Regions from separate parts of the Homo sapiens genome. Here region 1 is linked to region 2. Evidence: fine-mapped QTL for protein levels in blood plasma. A gene starts in region 2. The other region holds a variant in brackets. All regions are shown on one strand. Distances are from middle to middle.

Region 1 (9,326 bases), 49 kb before region 2:
TTTTGCTGGGTTATGTGCTTGCAAACCTGCGCCACCTCCTTTTGAAACTGGACATCTTCCTGCGGGTTAAGCAGTGAGATCTCAGCCAGGCCAGAAAAAGCTGCCATGCCAAAAGCGGCCGACACTAACTCCACGCGGTGCTCCTGGAAACGTCGGGCTCCCAGCTCCCATGAGGCAGAAAACGGGCATCTATTCTTTTAACATACGTATGTATACACAGTCCAAGTGATGGAACATCAGGATCAGTGGCAGCTGGGAGGGTGGGGGAGGCAGCACCACCTGATATTTAGGAGGGAGAATGACCGGGAGTTGCCGATACGTGGAGTGAGGGATAAGTCAGAGTTGTTCCTAAGATTTTGAGTTTGGGCAATGGTGGCATGGTAAGCTAAGATCAAGGATATGAAGGGAAGAAGGGCTTTCAGGCTGGGAGCATTTAGGAGAGCATGAGAGGATAATGCATGTGTTTTGGACATGAGGTACTTGCAGGGTGTCCACATACAGATGTCTGGGAAACAATAGATGCAGGCTGGGTGTGGTGGCTCACGCCTGTCATCCTAGTCGCCTGGATAGCTGAGGCAGGAGGCCTGCTTGAGGCCAGGAATTTGAGATCAGCATCGGCAACAAAGCAAGACCCCATATCTACCAAAAAAATTTAAGGTCGGGCATGGTGGCTCATGCCTGTAGTCCCAGCACTTTGGGAGGCTGAGGTGGATGGATCACGAGGTCAGGAGTTCGAGACCATGCTGGCCAACATGGTGAAACCCTGTCTCTACTAAGAAAAAATACAAAAATTAGTCAGGGGTGGTGGTGCATGCCTGTAATCCCAGCTACCCAGGAGGCTGAGGCAGGAGAATCTCTTGAACCTGGGAGGCGGAGGTTGCAGTGAGCTGAGATCGTGCCAGTGCACTCCAGCCTGGGAAACAGAGGGAGATTCCATCTCAAAAAAAAAAAAAAAAAAGTCAAGAAGAAATAAACGTGGTGCTCTCTGGAGCTGGAGGCTGTTGATGTAGGTGTGGGAATTACCACTTGGGAGAGTTCATCTCTGCCTGTTTCAAAATCCATCGTGAGCATTGCCAGTGCTTTCTTGAAGAGCTCTCATGAGCGTGGGGCAGGATTGGTGCCATCTTCATATCACAGGCTGTCTTAGTTCATTTGTGTGGCTATAGCAGAATACCACAAACTGGGTAATATTTAAATAATAAAAAAGTACTTCTCATGGCTCTGGAGGCTGCGAAGTCCAAGATCAAGGCACCAGCAGGTTCAGTATCTGGTGAGGGCCTGATCTCTGCTTCCAAGATGTGCCTCTCTTATGGAAGGTGGAAGGGCAAAAAGGGGCCAACACTGCGTGAAGCCTCTTTTATAGTCTAAATCCCATTCATGAAAGAGGATCCCTCATGACATAATTACCTCCTAAAGGCCCTGTCTCTTCATATTATTGCATTGGGGATTAAGTTTCAACATGAATTTTGGAGGGACACAAACTTTCAATCCATGGCAGAAACTCTTTGCAGAGCCATTTTGCTGCAAAAACTTGAGGGTGGGGGTATGACTTATTTAATAAAGATGACATTTTCTGTATAAATGATACCTAAGTCCTCCTCATTAGCAAATGTCGAATAGGACATTTTCTTTTTTTATTATTATTATACTTTAAGTTCTAGGGTACATGTGCACAACGTGCAGGTTTGTTACATATGTATACATGTGCCATGTTGGTTTGCTGCATCCATTAACTCATCATTTACGTTAGGTATTTCTCCTAATGCTATCCCTCCCCCATCCCCCAACCCCACCACAGGCCCCGGTGTGTGATGTTCCCCGCCCTGTGTCCAAGTGTTCTCATTGTTCAATTCCCACCTATGAGTGAGAACATGTGGTGTTTGGTTTTCTGTCCTTGCGACAGTTTGCTCAGAATGATGGTTTCCAGGAATAGGACATTTTCTTTCTTTTTCTCTTTCTTTCTTTCTTCTTTTTCTTTTTCTTTTTTTTTTTTTTTTTTTTTTTTTTTGAGATGCAGTCTCACTCTGTTGCCCAGGCTGGAGTGCAGTGGTGCAATCTTGGCTCACTGCAACACCCACCTCCTAGGTTCAAGTGATTCTCCTGCCTCAGCCTCCCAAGTAGCTGGGATTATAGGCACCCGCCACAACATCTGGCTAATTTTTGTATTTTTAGTAGAGACAGGGTTTTGCCATGTTAGCCAGGCTGGTCTCGAACTCCTGACCTCAAGCGATCCACCCGCCTTGGCCTCCCAAAGTCTTGGGATTACAGCCGTGAGCCACTGTGCCCCGCCCCGAATAGGACTTTTTCTGTTGCCTCTTAAATGGTTTAAAGAGGGCAGCCAATAATGGGGTCAGAAAGCTTCTCTCTGCCTAGCTTCCCAAAAAAACAAAGCTGCCAGCTGGCTGTTGGACAGGTGAGAAGTCTTTGGTGAGATGCTTCATCATCCTCTCTTTCCTGAACTCTTCACGTGTACCAGGGCTCTGGATAGGAGGGGGTGCTCCAAGAAAATGTTTAGGAAAGACTAGGGTTTCCTGATAGAATGGGAGGAATCAACACACTATCTCCCCATTGGGTGTCTGTGTGGGCAGCCAACTTCTTGCTGTGCCCTGCATCTCCCTGCGCAGGGGAGAGGAGCATTAGAGAGGAAAAGCTGGGGGCAACGAGGAGCTTGGGGCAGTGTAGCCTGCACTCCACAGTCCAGCATGGTTAGGATGTGTGGGTTTCTGAGTCCTTTCTGGCTACTATAACAACAATACCATAGGCTGGATGGGTTGTAAACAATGAAAATTTATTTCTTATAGTTTTAGAGGCTGGGAAGTCCAAGATCAAGATGTCAGCAGATTCAGTGTCTGATGTGGACTCACTTCCAGGCTTACAGATGGTGCCTTCTGGTTGTGTCCTCACTTGGTAGGAGGGACAGCTCTCTGGGGTCTCTTATTAAGGGCACTAATCCCATTTATGAGGGCACCACCCTCATGACCTAATCACCTTCCAAAGGTCTTGACTTCAAATATCATTACATTGGGGGTTAGGAATTCAACCTAGACTTTGGAAGGACACATACATTTTGTCTATAGCAGGGGGTGGATGGACACGAAGGAGGGTAGCTGGGCTTCTGCAATCTAGGTGATATGTCACCCAAGAAAGCGGTAAGAGGCTGCATGGTGTCTGCCAATGGTGGAATTGGAGAAGGTATGGGAGAAGCAGGGGACACAACTCTCATATCAAGAAACAGAGGAGGCTGGGCACGGTGACTCACATCTGTTATCCCAGCACTTTGGGAGACTGAGGCAAGCAAAGCAGTTGGGGTCAGGAGTTGGAGACCAGCCTGGTGAACATAGCGAAACCCCATCTCTAGTAGTAAAAATACAAAAATTAGCTGGGTGTGGTGGCGCGCACACGTGTAGTCCCAGCTACTCGGAAGGCTGAGGCATAAGAATCGCTTGAACCCGGGAGGCAGAGTTTGCAGGGAGCCAAGATCGCACCATTGCACTCCAGCCTGGGCAGCAGAACAAGACTCTTGTCTCAAAAACGAAAACCAAACAAGCAAACAAACAAAAAAACATGATTGACTCAGTGATCAGAAAACATATAACTATTTTATATTCATACTTCCTGCAGTTAATGTCCCAGTTGACTGGTTAAAAAGAATATTTGGGGGCCAGGCGCAGTGGCTCATGCCTGTAATCCCAGCACTTTGGGAGGCCGAGGCGGGCGGATAACAAGGTCAGGAGATCAAGACCATCCTGGCTAACACAGTGAGACCCCGTCTCTACTAAAAATACAAAAAATTAGCTGGGCGCGGTGGCAGGCACCTGTAATCCCAGCTACTCGGGAGGCTGAGGCAGGAGAATGGCATGAACCCGGGAGGCGGAGCTTGCAGTGAGCCAAGATTGCACCACTGCACTCCAGCCTGGGCGACAGCGAGACTGTCTCAAAAAAAAAAAAAAAAAAAGAAAAAGAATATTTGGCAATACGGAAAGTTCCCCTTGGGTTTTCTGACTCCAAGCCTGGTGTTTTTGTTTGTTTGTTTGTTTGTTTTCATTTGCACAACATTGCCTTTCCCCAAGAGTACTGGATAACAATGCCCTCCCTCCAAGTCCCAAGTCACTATTGCAGAAGTCAGGACCTTAACACACACATTTCAAAGTTACTGACACCTAGTCAAACCTGGTGCCTTAGCAATGCAATCTTGTAATTTCCCAGGTCAAACAGATCTTCAAGGGTTGCTCTCATGGCAGAATTTGGTGGTAGAAGGAAGGAAGCAGAGTCTCAGTCTTTGTGCAGCTTGTAGGGAGTTCCCTT[T/C]TTCTCAAGCCCTTGCAGCATCCTTCCCACTCTAAGCTTAAAGGAGACTGTGTAACCAGCAGTGCTCACCCATCCTGGGCCTGAGTTTGAATCCCAGCTCTGGAGTTCAGCTGTGTGACATGCAAGACCTTGTCCCTCTCTGAAGTCCTTCTGTAAAATGAGGTGGCTGCATTGGGTGATCCCATTCCACACCATGAGTCTATAGTCCTATCATCCTGGGTATACCGACGTCTGGTGGCCAACTTTGGTCCTTGCAGCTAATTCAGGTTTTTTCTTTGTTTTTGAGACATAGTCTCGCTGTGTCACCCAGGCTAGAGTGCAGTGACGCGATCTCAGCTCACTGCAGCCTCTGCCTCCCAGGTTCAAGCGATTCTCATGCCTCAGGATCCTGAATAGCTGAGGAATACAGGCACCTGCCACCACACCTGGCTAATTTTTGTATTTTTAGTAGAGACAGGCTCTCGCTCTGTTGCTCAGACTGGTCTCGAACTCCTGAGCTCAAGTGATCCGCCTGCCTCGGCCTCACAAAGTGCTGGATTACAGGCGTGAGCCACCGTGTCCAGCTCAGTTTTTAATTTTTTATTTTTCAGTATCTGGAGTGTTTAGCACAGCCAGGAAACAAAACACACCAGAGAGGGCCACCTTGCCATGTCACCAACGATGCAATAACTACCGAAGAAAGGCCCCTTGGGTGGCTATGGAGGAGCAGAGGTCAGCAGAGGAGATGGCCAGCAAAGTGCTCTCCTTTGCTCTATTTCTTTTCTTTTGAGACGGAGTCCCACTCTATTGCCCAGGCTGGAATGCAGTGGCATGATCTCGGCTTCTGCAACCTCCATCTCCCAGGTTCAAGCAATTCTCCTGCCTCAGCCTCCCGAGGAGCTGGGATTACAGGTGCCCGCCACCACACCTGGCTAATTTTTGTATTTTTTTAGGTGAGACGGGGTTTCACCATGTTGGCCAGGCTGGTCTTGAACTCCTGACATCAGGTGATCCGCCCACCTCAGCCTCCCAAAGTGTTGGGATTACAGGCGTGAGCCACTGTGTGATTCTTAGCATGTTGTAAGTTTGTCATTGTTCCATTTCCAAAGCATTCCAACCTCCATCCCCGCATGCGTTTGCACTTCTTTAGATTTGTGGGTCTGAGAGCGCATTAGCACCCCATCCACATGCAGTCTCCTGCCCTTCCAATCCTCACCCTGAAAACCTTCCTGTAGTCACAGACCTAGTCATTTTTCCCACGGCTACTCTTGAACTCTTTATGGACCTCTGCGCTCGCTTCCTCTTCTGTGAAAACAAATGAGTTTATGTAGATTAAGATCTAGCCAACTTCTGTAAAGGATCAGATGGTAAATATTTTAGGCTTTGCAGGCTAGTGACTCAACTCTGCATGAAAATAACTGCAATGTGTAAAGGAATGAGCATGGTTGGGCACCACACTGAAATTTGAATTTCATCTCCTTCCCAGGGGCCCCAGAAGAGTCTTCTTCTTCGGACTTTTTCCCCAAGCATTTAAATGTAAAAACATTTCTAGCTTGCAGGTGGTATGAAAATAGGCAGCAGGCTGGAGGTGACTGAGGAGCCTATCTAGTCTTTTTTTTTTTTTTAAACAGAGTCTCGCTCTGTTGCACAGGCTGGAGTGCAGTGGCGCCATCTCAGCTCACTGCAACCTCGGCCTCCTGGGTTCAAGCAAATCTGCCTCAGCCTCCCGAGTAGCTGGGACTACAGTTGCGCACCACCACGCCCAGCTAATTTTTGTATTTTTAGTAGAGACGGGGTTTTACCATGTTGGCCAGGCTGGTCTCAAACTCCTGGCCTCAAGCGATCCATCAGCCTCAGCCTCCCAAAGTGCTGGGATTACAGGCGTGAGCCACTGCGCCTGGCTGTATCTAGTCATCTTTAAAGACCCTCCCATCTCTGAGAACCCATGAAACTGCGCAGTCCTCTGGACTGGAGCTGGGGTGTGTCAAAGGCAAATCTTTGCCTGCCTTCTCAGAACACCATATTCAGAGAAGGCCATTCAGGACAGATTTGTCAGGCTGTTCCGAATGCCCAGGTCTGGGATGAGATGGCCTATCCATGGAGGATTTTTATTTTTTCGAGACAGGGTCTCACTCTGTTGCTCAGGCTGGAGTGCAGTGGTGTGATCTTGGCTCACCACAGCCTCTGCTTCCTGGGTTCAAGTGATCCTCCTGCGTCTGCCTCCCAAGTAGCTGTGTTACAAGAAAGGGGTCCTGATCTAGACCCCCCAAGAGAGGGTTCTTGGATCTCACACAAGAAATAATTCAAGACGAGGCGGTAAGGTGAAAGCAAGTTTATTAAGAAAGTAAAGGAACAAAAGAATGGCTACTCCATAGACAAGAGCAGCGCCTAGAGCTGCTGGTTGCCCACTTTTATGGTTATTTCTTGCTTATTTGCTAAACAAGGGGTGGATTATTCATTCCTCCCCCTTTTGGGACATATCGGGTAACTTCCTGATGTTGCCATGGCATTTGTAAACTGTCATGGTGCTGTCAGGAGTGTAGCAGTGAGGACGACCAGAGGTCACTCTCGTGGCCAACTTGGTTTTGGTGGGATTTGGTTGGCTTCTTTACTGCAATCTGTTTTATCAGCAAAGTCTTTATGACCTGTATCTTGTACGGACCTCCTGTCTCATCCTGTGACTTAGAATGCCTCCACTGTCTGAGAATGCAGCCCAGTAGGTCTCAGCCTCATTTTATTCAGCTCCTATTCCAGATGGAGTTGCTCTGGTTTAAATGTCTGACAGCTGGGACTACAGGCACACACCACCAAGCCCAGCTATGTTTTGTATTTTTTGTAGAGATGGGGTTTCACCATGTTGCCCAGGCTGGTCTCGAACTCCTGGGCTCAAGCAATCCACCCACCTTAGCCTCCCAAAGTGCTGGGATTACAGACACCCAACCCATTTGGAGGATTTTTTTTTTGAGATGGAGTCTCGCTTTGTTGCCCAGGCTGGCGTGCAATGGTGTGATCTTGGCTCACTGCAACCTCCGTCTCCCAGGTTCAAGTGATTCTCCTGCCTCAGCTTCCCAAGTAGGTAGGATTACAGGCGCCTGCCACCATGCCCAGCTAATTTTTGTATTTTTAGTAGAGACGGGGTTTCACCAAGTTGGCCAGGCTGGTCTCGAACTCCCGACCTCAGGCGATCTGCCCACCTCAACCTCCCAAAGTGCTGGGATTACAGGCGTGAGCCACTGTGCCCTGGCCAGATGTTTTTTTAAAAGAGAGAGAAAGAGAGAGAGAGAGAGAAAGAGAGAGAGAGAGGGAGAGAAGGAAACTTTGCACTCTGTTATCTTCAACCTCTTACTCTACCTTCCTCCCTAGCCGAAGTCCCAGTCCTAAAGCCTAAGAGACCCTCATTGGAACTTGACTTCTGCATAATCCGCCTGGGTGCCCTTGGGCATCCGGGCCTCAGGCCTGGGTCTGACGCCTGGGAAGTTGAGCGTGGCATAATGGAGCTCCTCTTGGCTCTCCTGGGATTCTGGGGCTTGAGTGGATGATTTGGGTTCTGGGAAACTGGGCAACTGATACTGCTTTTTCTGGTTCTTCTTTGATTCTGGGGAGGGAGCACCTGGTGGAAGAGGGGTCCGAGGACTGTTTGGTGTGGCTTTCTGATTCCGCTTCTGAGCCTGAGGGAAGAACCACCATCCTTCATTCATTCATTCAGCAAATATTTGAGCACTTACCACGCGTCGGGCACTGATTTACAGCACAGAGTGAAACTAAGTCCCTGCCCTTGCCTTGCTGAGCTTGCATTCCATCTTGGAAGGAGGAACAGACAATAATTAGCAAAAGTACAATGACTGGTAAGTGACAAATGCCATCAAGAAATTTGAGCACCTTTAGAAGGCAGCGAAAGGGAGGGTGGGATGACTGTTTAATAGGTCATCCAGGGAATTTCAAGACCGGCCTGGCCAACATAGCGAAACCCTGTCTCTACCACAAATACAAAAATTAGCCGGGCGTGGTGACACATGCCTGTGGTCCCAGCTACTCAGGAGGCTGAGGCAGGAAAATCACTTGAACCTGAGAGGTGGAGGTTGTAGTGCGCTGAGACTGCGCCACTGCACTCCAGCCCGGACAACAGAGACAAAATCTGTTTCAAAAAAATAATTGATAGCCGGGTACGGTGGTTCACACCTGTAATCCCAGCACTTTGGGAGGCTGAGGCGGGTGGATCACCTGAGGTCAGGAGTTTGAGACCAGCCTGATCAACATGGTGAAACCCCGTCTCTACTAAAAATACAAAAATTAGGGGGGCATGGTGGTGGATGCCTGTAATCCCAGCTACTCAGGAGGCTGAGGCAGATGAATCGCTTGAACCAGGAGGTGGAGGTTGCAGTGAGCCGAGACCTTGCCACTGCACTCCAGCCTAGACAACAACAGTGAAATCCCATCTCAAAAAATAAAATAAAATAAAAATAAATAAAATAAAGAATAGCATGCATGCACGGAGAGAAAGACTGGAGGGGGTGAGAACGGAAGCAGAGAAGGCATGCAGAAGGGGCCAGTGGTGCCCGGGGTGGGGTGGGGGGTGTTGATGCATGGCTTGTAGTAGTGAGGGAAGAGTAGGGAGAACTGGCTTGGTTGTATTTTGAAGGGAATTTGCTGATGGATTGGTTGTGGGGTGACAGAGAAGAGAGGAGTGAAATATGATTCTAAAGCTTTAGACTTGGCTGGGAAAATGTGGTGTTATTTGCTAAGATGGGGATAGAGATGGAGCATAAATGGTGGAATTAGTCTTTTTTTTTTTTTAGATGAAGTTTCGCTCTTGTTGCCCAGGCTGGAGTGCAGTGGCATGATCTCACTGCAACCTCCACCTCCTGGGTTCAAGTAATTCTCCTGCCTCAGCCTCCCGAGTAGCTGTGATTACAGGCACCCATCACCATGCCCAGGTAATTTTTTGTATGTTTAGTAGAGATGGGGTTTCACCATGTTGAACACGCTGCTCTTAAAATTTTGACCTCAGGCGATCCACCCACCTCGGCCTCCCAAAGTGCTGG
Region 2 (9,326 bases):
AGGGAGAGTCCAGGAAGGAGGCCCAGGAGGTCCGTCCTCCATTCATCCCACCTGCATTTTTGTCGAAGTGTCTTTCATGCTTTCCTCCAACATTTAACACTTACTGAGCACCTGTTTGGTGTTTACTAATCTCATTAACTTCCCGCAACAACTCCATAGTGAGATATTATTATTATCTCCACTTTATAAATATGAAAACTGAGGTCGAAACAGTCAGCACTGCGCCCAAAGTCCCTGTTGCAGCAGGACCCAATCCATCTGTTCCTTCTGACCCCAAAGCCTGGAGTCCTGCTGAGGCCCCCGTGTGTGAGGCCCTGAGCCGGTGCTGGATAAACTATGATGGACATGGTAGGTGTGGGCCCTGACCTCCTGCAGCTCAGTTTTTGTTTTGTTTTGTTTTGTTTTTTGGTTTTTTTTTTGAGACAGAGTCTGGCTCTGTTGCCCAGGCTGGAGTGCAGTGGTGCAATCCCAGCTCACTGCACCCTCCACTTCCTGGGCTCAAGGGATCATTCCATCTCAGCCCCCCAAGTAGCTGGGACTGCAGGAACTCACCACCATGCCTGGTTAAGTTTTGCATTTTTTTGTAGAGATGGGATCTCATTATGTTGCCCAGGCTGGTCTCAAACTCCTGGGCTCAAGCGATCCTCCTACCTTGGCCTCCCAAAGTGGCAGCTCAGTCTTTAATTGAGGGAGGTGGCAACAAATGACTGTTAAAGAAATGAATATCAGCTTGGGTGCGGTGGCTCATGCCCCTAATCCTAACACTTTGGGAGGCTGAGGCGGGCGGATCACGAGGTCAGGAGTTCGAGACCAGCTGGCCGACATGGTGAAACCCCGTCTCTACTAAAAATACAAAAATTAGCCTGGCTTGGTGGCGCGTGCCTGTAATCCTGGCTACTTGGGAGGCTGAGGCAGGAGAATTGCTTGAACCTGGGAGGCAGAGGTTGCAGTGAGCCGAGATTGCCCCACTGCACTCCAGCCTAGGTGACAGAGCAAGATTCTGCCTCGAGAAAAAAATAAAAATAAGAAATGAGTATCTACATGTAAATTATGATACAACGGGCAAAACGAGAGTAAATGAGAGAGAATTACAGGGCCTTAATTGAGACATGATACCTGACCTGGGGAAGCTCACAGGTTAGTGGCGTAAGGATGACAAGCCGGTCAAAGAAATCAGGTCCCGCCAATAGGAAAAATAATGAGAGGGGTCAGGATGGCTGGGGCCAGGGAGAAGAGATGCCAGCTATTCTTGGGGAGGAAAAATGGAGGAGAGATGGTGAATCGGGGCTATAGAGAAGAAAAGGAGGACAGAGAGGAGATAACTCCTACTCAGTGCCTGGCCTGGGAAAAATTGGGGGTAGGGACTGCCATGCTGTCAGCAAGATGGGGGAGTCCTGTAGAAGCCGGCCTGTGGGAAGGAGGAGGAGACGAGGAAGTGACTTTGGCCATACCAAAGAGAGCGATCCTGGGGGCCATCCTGTCAGAGGTGTCCAGGCTGGATGCTCGGTGTGGAGAAGCCCACATCACTCACCTGAGAGGCCGAGCCCCTGATGGCCTTTGCATCTTCCATGCCTGTATCCCCCACGCCCGCTGCTGGCCTTGCCGATTTCTTCCTGCAGGACCTCACTCTGAGTGAAGAGACCAGAGAGCCTTTCAGTGTGGTCAGATCGGGGTGCAGTGGGCAGACCAACCCCTGCCCTGTATTTCCTACTGGGGGCTTGAGGGGTGACCGAGGCGCAACGGCGGTGGTCCAGTTCCAGAGACCCCAACGGTGAAAACAGAGGCTCCTGCCTCATGGATGGTGGGGCCCGAGGTTGCTACAGATGTGGAGCCCCACAGACAAGGACGCTCGTGAAATGCTCACCGTGCACCCGTGAGCTCATTCTTGCCCCAAGCCCTGGACCCATCCAGGTCCTTCCAGCTCTGGCTTCAGGGATTCTGTTCCCGGTCTGCCCTGCCCCAGGTCTCTCTCTCCCTCCCCAGGGTCAATGCTCACATGATGAAGATGATGCAGAAGGACAGGAAGGCCAGGGCTGTGGCTCCAGCTCCCCCGACTGCTGCCAGTGTCACTTGTGATACAGGTCTTGAGGTGCCTGCAGATGGATTGGAGTTGCTTTGGGGATTTATATCACGGAGAAGTGGGTCTCTTCCCCTCCCACTGTCTGCAGGGCCCTAGACTTCCATTCCCCTCTTCTCCTTCCCAGACACAGAATACGAATGGGAGGGAGGAAAGGAGACTACTTCTGAGGCCAGTGAGGCATGAGAGTGCTGGATGCAGCTTGTCTTGCCTTTATTTACAATTTTGATATTGTGTTCTTGTGGAATCATTTTGCATTCAATTTTAGTTTTTTCAAAAGATCATGGCATTGCAATATTACTTTACTTGCTTTCTGAGTTGGGTTTTTCTTTGGCTTCTTAAATTTGGTGCCAAGGCAAGTGCCTCATGTGCCTCATCCTAGTCTAAGCACTGCAAAGCAAGGCGCTTGTCCCTCCAAACACACCTGGCCGGGCCCCAGCTCCTCCCCTCCAAGACCCACTCCTCCCCTCTCCCCACCCCGCACCCCTTTCCTGGCGGGGAGAGGACAGTGATGCTCTGGGTCGCAGGGAAGTTCCAGGCCTCACAGCTGAGCACAGACCAGAGCTGAGCTCCCCCTTGAAGCTCAGGGGCAGTGGGTGGTCCATGAGGGTGGGGCAGGTGTGTTCTCCTCCTCCAGCCCCTCCCTTACCCACCTGTGCCCTCATTCTGCAGGGAGAGGCTCAGGGAAATGTGCTGGGAGCCCTGAGCGTTCTGAGCTCGGCAGGTGAATTCCCCTTCATCCCTCACGTGCACTCGAGGCAGCTCCAGCAGCCCAGGGTTTGAGGACCGTGAGGGGCACAGGGTCAGGCTCCCCCGGGTCCAGCTCAGCCTGGCAGGGGGATTGCTGTTGACAGCACAGACCAGGCGCAGAGACTGGCCCTCAAGGACTGAAAGAGATGAGCCATTTCCCAGGGCTGTGGATGCTGCAGAGAAAGAGACAGAGGGTCATCCCATTACTGGGTATATACCCAAAGGATTATAAATCATGCTGCTATAAAGACACATGCACATGTATGTTTATTGTGGCACTATTCACAATAGCAAAGACTTGGAACCAGCCCAAATGTCCAACAATGATAGACTGGATTAAGAAAATGTGGCACATATACACCATGGAATACTATGCAGCCACAAAAAATGATGAGTTCATGTCCTTTGTAGGGACATGGATGAAGCTGGAAACCATCATTCTCAGCAAACTATTGCAAGGACAAAAAAACAAACACCGCATGTTCTCACTCATAAGTGGGAACTGAACAATGAGAACACATGGACACAGGAAGGGGAACATCACACACCGGGGACTGTTGTGGGGTGGGGGGAGGGATAGCATTAGGAGATATACCTAATGCTAAATGACAAGTTACTGGGGGCAGCACACCAACATGGCACATGTATACATATGTAACAAACCTGCACGTTGTGCACATGTATCCTAAAACTTAAAGTATAATAATAATAATAATAATAAAAGGAGACAGAGGGTCAGAGAGACAAATGGATCCAGAGAAAGAGGAAGGACACAGAAAGAGACTAGTGAGAGGGACTGACACACAGACATAGACTGAAGTGCAGGAAAACGCACACTCAGTGCTGGGAATGTAAACTTGTCCACTTTTAATTGAGAACAACTTCACTGCATCTTTCAAAATTAGAAACAACATACGACACTGGTATATTTTGCTTTTAGGAATTTATCCCATACACTTAGATATTCCTGTGGAAGTAGATACAAGACTATCCACTGCACAGTTTCTGCGGAAGGATATTTGTGCCATGATTTTCCTTAAGGGATGCCACAAAGTCAGAGTCCATCTGTGCAGTGAAATCACACACGGTCCTAGAGGACGGGGTGGACAGTCTCACTACGATGTCAAACCACCTCTGAGATCCTCCAGGTGCACAAACCAAGACTCAGGGCAGCCTGGACGGACGCTGGTCAGTTCCGTGGAGGGGGATGGGCACTGGAGGACAGACTTTGCTGTGCATTTTGAATTTCTGCCCATGTGACTGTATCATCTGGGCAGAAGTACTTAGATCGAAACTACTGGGAAAACAGAAAGATCAGACAGAGGAAGTATTCAGGAGATGCCTGACAAGAAACTTGAAAGTCTGGTCCCAAAATAAAAACGAACAAAAACCAAAAAAATTGGGAGTCTGATCCAGCTGTGTGAATGTCACCCTGTCCTTGCTGTGGGGCCAAGGAAGGGGTGTGTGGAGGAGTCTAAGGGGAGCAGGGACAGGATGGGGACAGGGGCTCAGATGGTCACGCGGGCTGGAGATGTGGGCTCTTGTGCCCTGGGCTCACGCACAGTGGCAGCTCTGTTTCCCAAAGTGATTCCAGGATGAGGAGAGACCCAGCCCCATCCTGAGCTGAAGGCCCTGCTCCCCCAACCCCAGGGAGGGGGCTCTGTCCTACCTGTGGCATCTCCTTGGAAGACAGTCATGGTCAAGTTCCAAGGAGGGTCTGGGACAGAAAGACATGAAGACCCACATTACTATAAGGACTGGGGACATTGGCCCTGTCTTCCCAGGAGCTGCAAATACAGGGAAAATGGAGTCGGCATTCTCCTGACCCCACTCCCAGCCCAGATTCTGGGACCCAGAACCCAGTGTCCAGGCTTGAACCCCATCCCCTGCCCTCAGGAACACCTCCCAACCCATGAGGGACCTGGGCATCTTGGTCCAGCACTCACAGGACACATCGAGGCGGACGGTACTGGTCGTGGTCACACCTGTCCCAGGCAAGGTCACCTGACAGGTGAGGCTGGTGCCGTGGTCCTGGGGCTTTGGGGTAAGGGTGAGCACTGAGGAGCGGGCAGTAGTGGGGCCCGGGGAGGACACGGAGGCCCCAATCCAGGAGATCATGGGGGGTGTCCCCTGCTTACAGGCCCAGGGCACAGAGCAGGTCAGGTTCCTGGAGTGGCCAGACTCTAGGGTCCCTAGGATGAGGATGTCAGGCCTATGGGTCAGGGCTGGTGAAGATGGGGACACAGGATCAGGAGGAGGTATTTCAGGTGCAGCCCTGGAGGAAGCTCAAGCTCTGGTCCAGCTCCTCCCCGGAGACCGACTTATTTCAATCCCAACCCCCTCCCAGGCCCCATCCCAGCCCTGCCTTTCAGCCCCTCATGACCTTCCCCTGTGGCCTGTGCTGGAGCCCGTGCCTTACCTGTCACAAACACAGACAGCTGCTTAGTTTTGTAATTCAACTGTGATTTGTAACTCCATTTCATGCTTCCTCTCTCTAGCCGAAAGAAATATGACCCCTTATCCCTCTTCCTGGCGTCTCTGATGCTCAGGGAGCAGTCGTTGCTCCAAATGTCCCCAAGGAGTTGGAATCGGCCCTGGGTCTCTGCCTGCACTTCTCTGTCTGGGTTGTTTGTGGCCACTGGAGCGTCTTGGTATGGTCTGTCTCCTGCCCGGAACCAGTAGCCATGAACTGGGTCAGAGTCAGTCCAGCCATCCTGGGGGTAGGAGAAGGAGCAGGGCACATGGACACACAGGCCCTCCTGCACCGTCACCAGCTCCTGCACTTGCAGCAAGTAACCATCCCCATATTGTCTGTCTCCCTCCATCCCCTTTGTCCCCCAGAGCAGGGGCAGCAGCAGCAGCAGCAGCAGCATGTCTGGGTTTGAAGGCGCCAGGGCCGCCAGGGAACGTCTGTTCCTCAGGGTTCTTCTCTCAGAAACTGAGGTCTCAAGACTTAGGGGAGGTCCCGCAGGAGGTTGGGGGTGAAGTCAGAAAAGTGACCTCCTCAGAGGAGGAACTTCACACACAGACACTGTCAGGGCCGGGTCAGTCCTGGGAGATCCACTGTCCACCACCCCATTTCCACTCCTGGGAACCCTGAGGCCAGAGAGGGTGAGAAACTCATCCAGATTCCCACCCTATGCAGGGCCCAACCTCTTTCTTGCTTCCCGGACTTGCCCTTCCATTTGGGTAACATTTTCTGCAAGGTGAAATTGGGTCCCATCTGGCCAGACCCCTGAATCACCCCCGGGGCTGTCACTGTTTGTGGAGGTCATACCAGCCAAAGGTGGAACTCAGGGCCATGAGAGACTGGGGTGCAGGTGAGGTGAGCAGGCAGCCTCTCCTCCCTCTCTCAGCAGCAACGAAGTGGGCACCTCCTCTTTACACAACGAGGTCAACAGAGCAGAGCCAGACACTGTCCTCAAGGAGTCACTGTGCAGAGGGGAGACACGGAGGCTCCTGACGTCTGAGCTCCCCAGGACGGGAGCTTCAGTGGGGGGCACAGGCAAGGTGGGGTCGTTCTCCCCTAGGTCAGGGGTTCAGTCTCAGGAGGCCTGAGCAGAGGGACACGGGGCTGTGGAGGTGAGGATTCTGCATGTTGATACACACGAAGGACGGGGGGCGGGGGGAAGCCTGGCTCGCAGGAGGCCTGGGAAACTGAGGCTGTAACTGTTGTACTGTGGGGTTTGGAAGGGAGAAATGTCAGAAGGGAAAGGGTCAATTTGAAAAGGGCACACACTTCTCCCTTTGTTGCAGCTATCTGGGTATCAGAATGGGTTTCTTCACCACCCGTATCTTACTCAGCCACACTTCCCCTGGTTACTGCACAGCAGGCGGGGTCTGTCAGCCCTGGGGCTTTGCTCCTGCAGGCTCTGCTTCCAGGGGTCCAGGTGAACAGGTGTCATGGAACGAGGACACCAGCCCTGGGGTGTGCACCTTCAGCGATGGGCAGGATTTCTTGAGAGAAGAAATGTGCACCTGAATTCAACAGATGATGATGATGATGATGATGATGATGATGATTATTATTATTATTATTATTATTATTATTTGAGACGGAGTCTCTCTCTGTCGCCAGGCTGGAGTGCAGTGGCGCGATCCCGGCTCACTGCAACCTCTGACTCCCTGGTTCAAGCGATTCTCCTGCCTCAGCCTCCCAAGTAGCTAGGATTACAGGCATACGCCACCACATCCAGCTAATTTTTGTATTTTTAGTAGAGCCGGGGTTTCACCATGTCGACCAGGATGGTCTGGATCTCCTGACCTCATGATCCACCCACCTCAGCCTCCCAAAGTGCTGGGATTACAGGTGTGAGCCACCGTGCCTGGCCTCAACAGATTATTTTAAACTGTGTGGCTGGGGGCTGGGAAGAAGTTAAGGGGGATCCTGGGAGGCGGAGCCTCCTTAGACTCAGGTCAATTTTCTTGAAACATTTTTTGGGGGGTAAATATAAGAAATATAGATAAAAACAACCCCCAAAGAAGACCTCAGTGATTTACATACAACGAGCCCCCTCCTAGAAATGGCACATTGACAAAGTCCCCAGCGCTGCTCATTTGTTTCTCCTTCTTATTGGCCACACCCCACTCCCTCCCAAACGATCCCCTAGCCTCACTTTGGTGCAAATTGCCTCAATGCTTTTCTATATAGTTTTATTATCTGAGCAGGCTGCATTTACTAAGCTTTTGCACGTTTTTCTGAAGACTTTGTATACACAGAAAATCAAACTCTACTTTCTTCCACTCAGCTTCATGGATCTGCCCGTCTCCTATCTTCCCCTCATTACTTATAACCTGGAGTAGATCATTCGGCTGTGATAATTGAGAAGGGAAGGTGCAGGGCTTGGGTGTGCATAGCCGACTCCCACCCCCATCACCAATGCTTGCATTTGTAGCTGGTATCTCATTCTGCAGCCATTTCCCCCTCCTGGGCCTCCTATCCTTGCCCAGTAGAGACAGCTGCAGTATCTCAATAGTCAGAAGGGCCGAGCCATGGCACAGGTCTTTTCCATGGTCCCCAAGTGGTAATTGAAGCCTTCAGTGAAGACTCCTGTGCAGGCCTTGCTCTCCAGCAACTTAGCCAGGCTGGAACTACAATTCCCAGAATCCCCTTCCCTGTTTGCTTCCTGGACAAAGTTCACCACAAGGGAAGGGGGAAGTTGGAGCAGCAGCCCTGAGGGGTCCGTGTAGGGGCAGGAGCTGTTGCAGCTCTCACATATTGACGCTGACCACTGGCCCATCTCATAGGGAGACACGATAGCCGCTCACTTGTTCACCTGCTGGACGGCAAGGAGGGCGTGTGGGACACCACGGGCTATGCCTTAGGGAGCAGAGAATCATTGAATCCTGACATGGGGATTGGTGACCCACATGGACACAGGTGGCCCAGAGAGACACATACAGTGACAGGCAAGGGATCCATAAAATGGCATCCCAAATAGTTCTCTCATCCTAAGACGATGTCCCAGGGTCTCTTTGACCTGACAACTAGCGCCATTCACCTTTTCAGGGGAGACCCAGCTTCCCAGGGCAAAGGGAAGGACACAGCGCATCTCAGTACCCAGAATGCCCAATGCTTGGGTGTGTGTGTGTGTGTGTGTGTGTGTGTGTGTGTGTGTGTGATTGAGAGAGAGAGAGAGACAGAGAGAGAGAGACCCTGTGTGTGAGGGAGAGGGAGTGTCTGTGTGTACCTGTGTGTTTCTGTGTATGAGCTGAGCACTGCCTCCTTGGGCAGTGTGACAGTTAATTTGATGTGTCAGCTTCACTGCCCTGGGAACCCCCATTCGTGTGTCCTTTCATAACCTCATTCCTTACCCTTCACATGCACATAGAGCATTTCTGTAATTACATTCACATAGATCTCCCTTTTCTCCCTAAAGAGGTCTGTCCCTGCATCTCGCCTCTGTGTGTCTCTGACGTCCAGAAAGCAGGTGCTGGCCTGGGGTCTGAAGCAGGTGGAATTGGCTCTGGGTCTCCTCCTGCTCTTTTCCAACTAGATTGCTTCCAGCCACTTGAGGATCCTGATGGAAATGTCCCCTTTCTGGGACAGTAGCCTTGGACAGGGCTGGAGTCAGACAGGTACCCACAGGGGTGGAAGATGGAGCAGTGCGTAGTCACAGAAACCCTCCTGCACCTGCACCAACTCTGGGGCTTCCTGCCGGGATCTCATATCCTGAGCCAGATCCCCTGTGGGGAAATGAGGGTCAGCCCAGCCCAGCCCCATGGTTCCTCTCCCTGAGGCCCATTCTCCTGCCCACAGCAGGGGCAGCAGCTATTGCAGCGTGAGCTTCTTTAGGGTGAGCCTTGGTGTCGCAGGGCCCTAGAAGGGCCCCACAGGAAGCCTGGGGGTAAGATCAGAAAAATAACTGACCACAAAAGAGGACCTTGGCCCCGACACTGCCAGAGCTGTCAGGGCTCCTGGGGAGTGGCCATTTCTACTCTCCGGATGGGTCTTCAGTGTGGGCCACACACAGCAGGGAGGCCCCGACCCACAGCTGCA

Alleles and levels. Positions count from the first base shown, and alleles are read on the strand shown. Strength reflects both the effect of a copy and how common the allele is.
As copies of T replace C in region 1, the plasma level of the protein whose gene starts at base 5,767 in region 2 goes up (moderate association).

What was found. PIP is the posterior inclusion probability: the model's chance that the variant is causal. The UK Biobank Pharma Proteomics Project read protein levels with antibody pairs (Olink). The fine-mapping took linkage between variants from a reference panel, not from the people measured, so its PIPs are less certain.
Region 1: its variant is fine-mapped to the plasma level of the SIGLEC8 protein (UK Biobank, PIP above 0.99).

The regions. Positions count from the first base shown.
Region 1 is chr19:51,403,420-51,412,745 of GRCh38, forward strand. It overlaps SIGLEC10 (sialic acid binding Ig like lectin 10), which reads right to left. Exons shown (of 11, transcript NM_033130.5): 11 at 6,601-7,952. The coding sequence ends at 7,680. It also overlaps the pseudogene NIFKP6. Among named protein-coding and RNA genes, the nearest start is that of SIGLEC10-AS1, 7.6 kb to the right of the region's middle. RefSeq lists enhancers at 4,464-4,513, 5,531-6,031. The variant T/C (reference allele first, on the strand shown) is at 4,306.
Region 2 is chr19:51,452,688-51,462,013 of GRCh38, forward strand. It overlaps SIGLEC8 (sialic acid binding Ig like lectin 8), which reads right to left and starts at 5,767. Exons shown (of 7, transcript NM_014442.3): 1 at 5,247-5,767; 2 at 4,774-5,052; 3 at 4,497-4,544; 4 at 2,731-3,000; 5 at 1,997-2,093; 6 at 1,532-1,628. The coding sequence starts at 5,700. It also overlaps the pseudogene SIGLEC25P.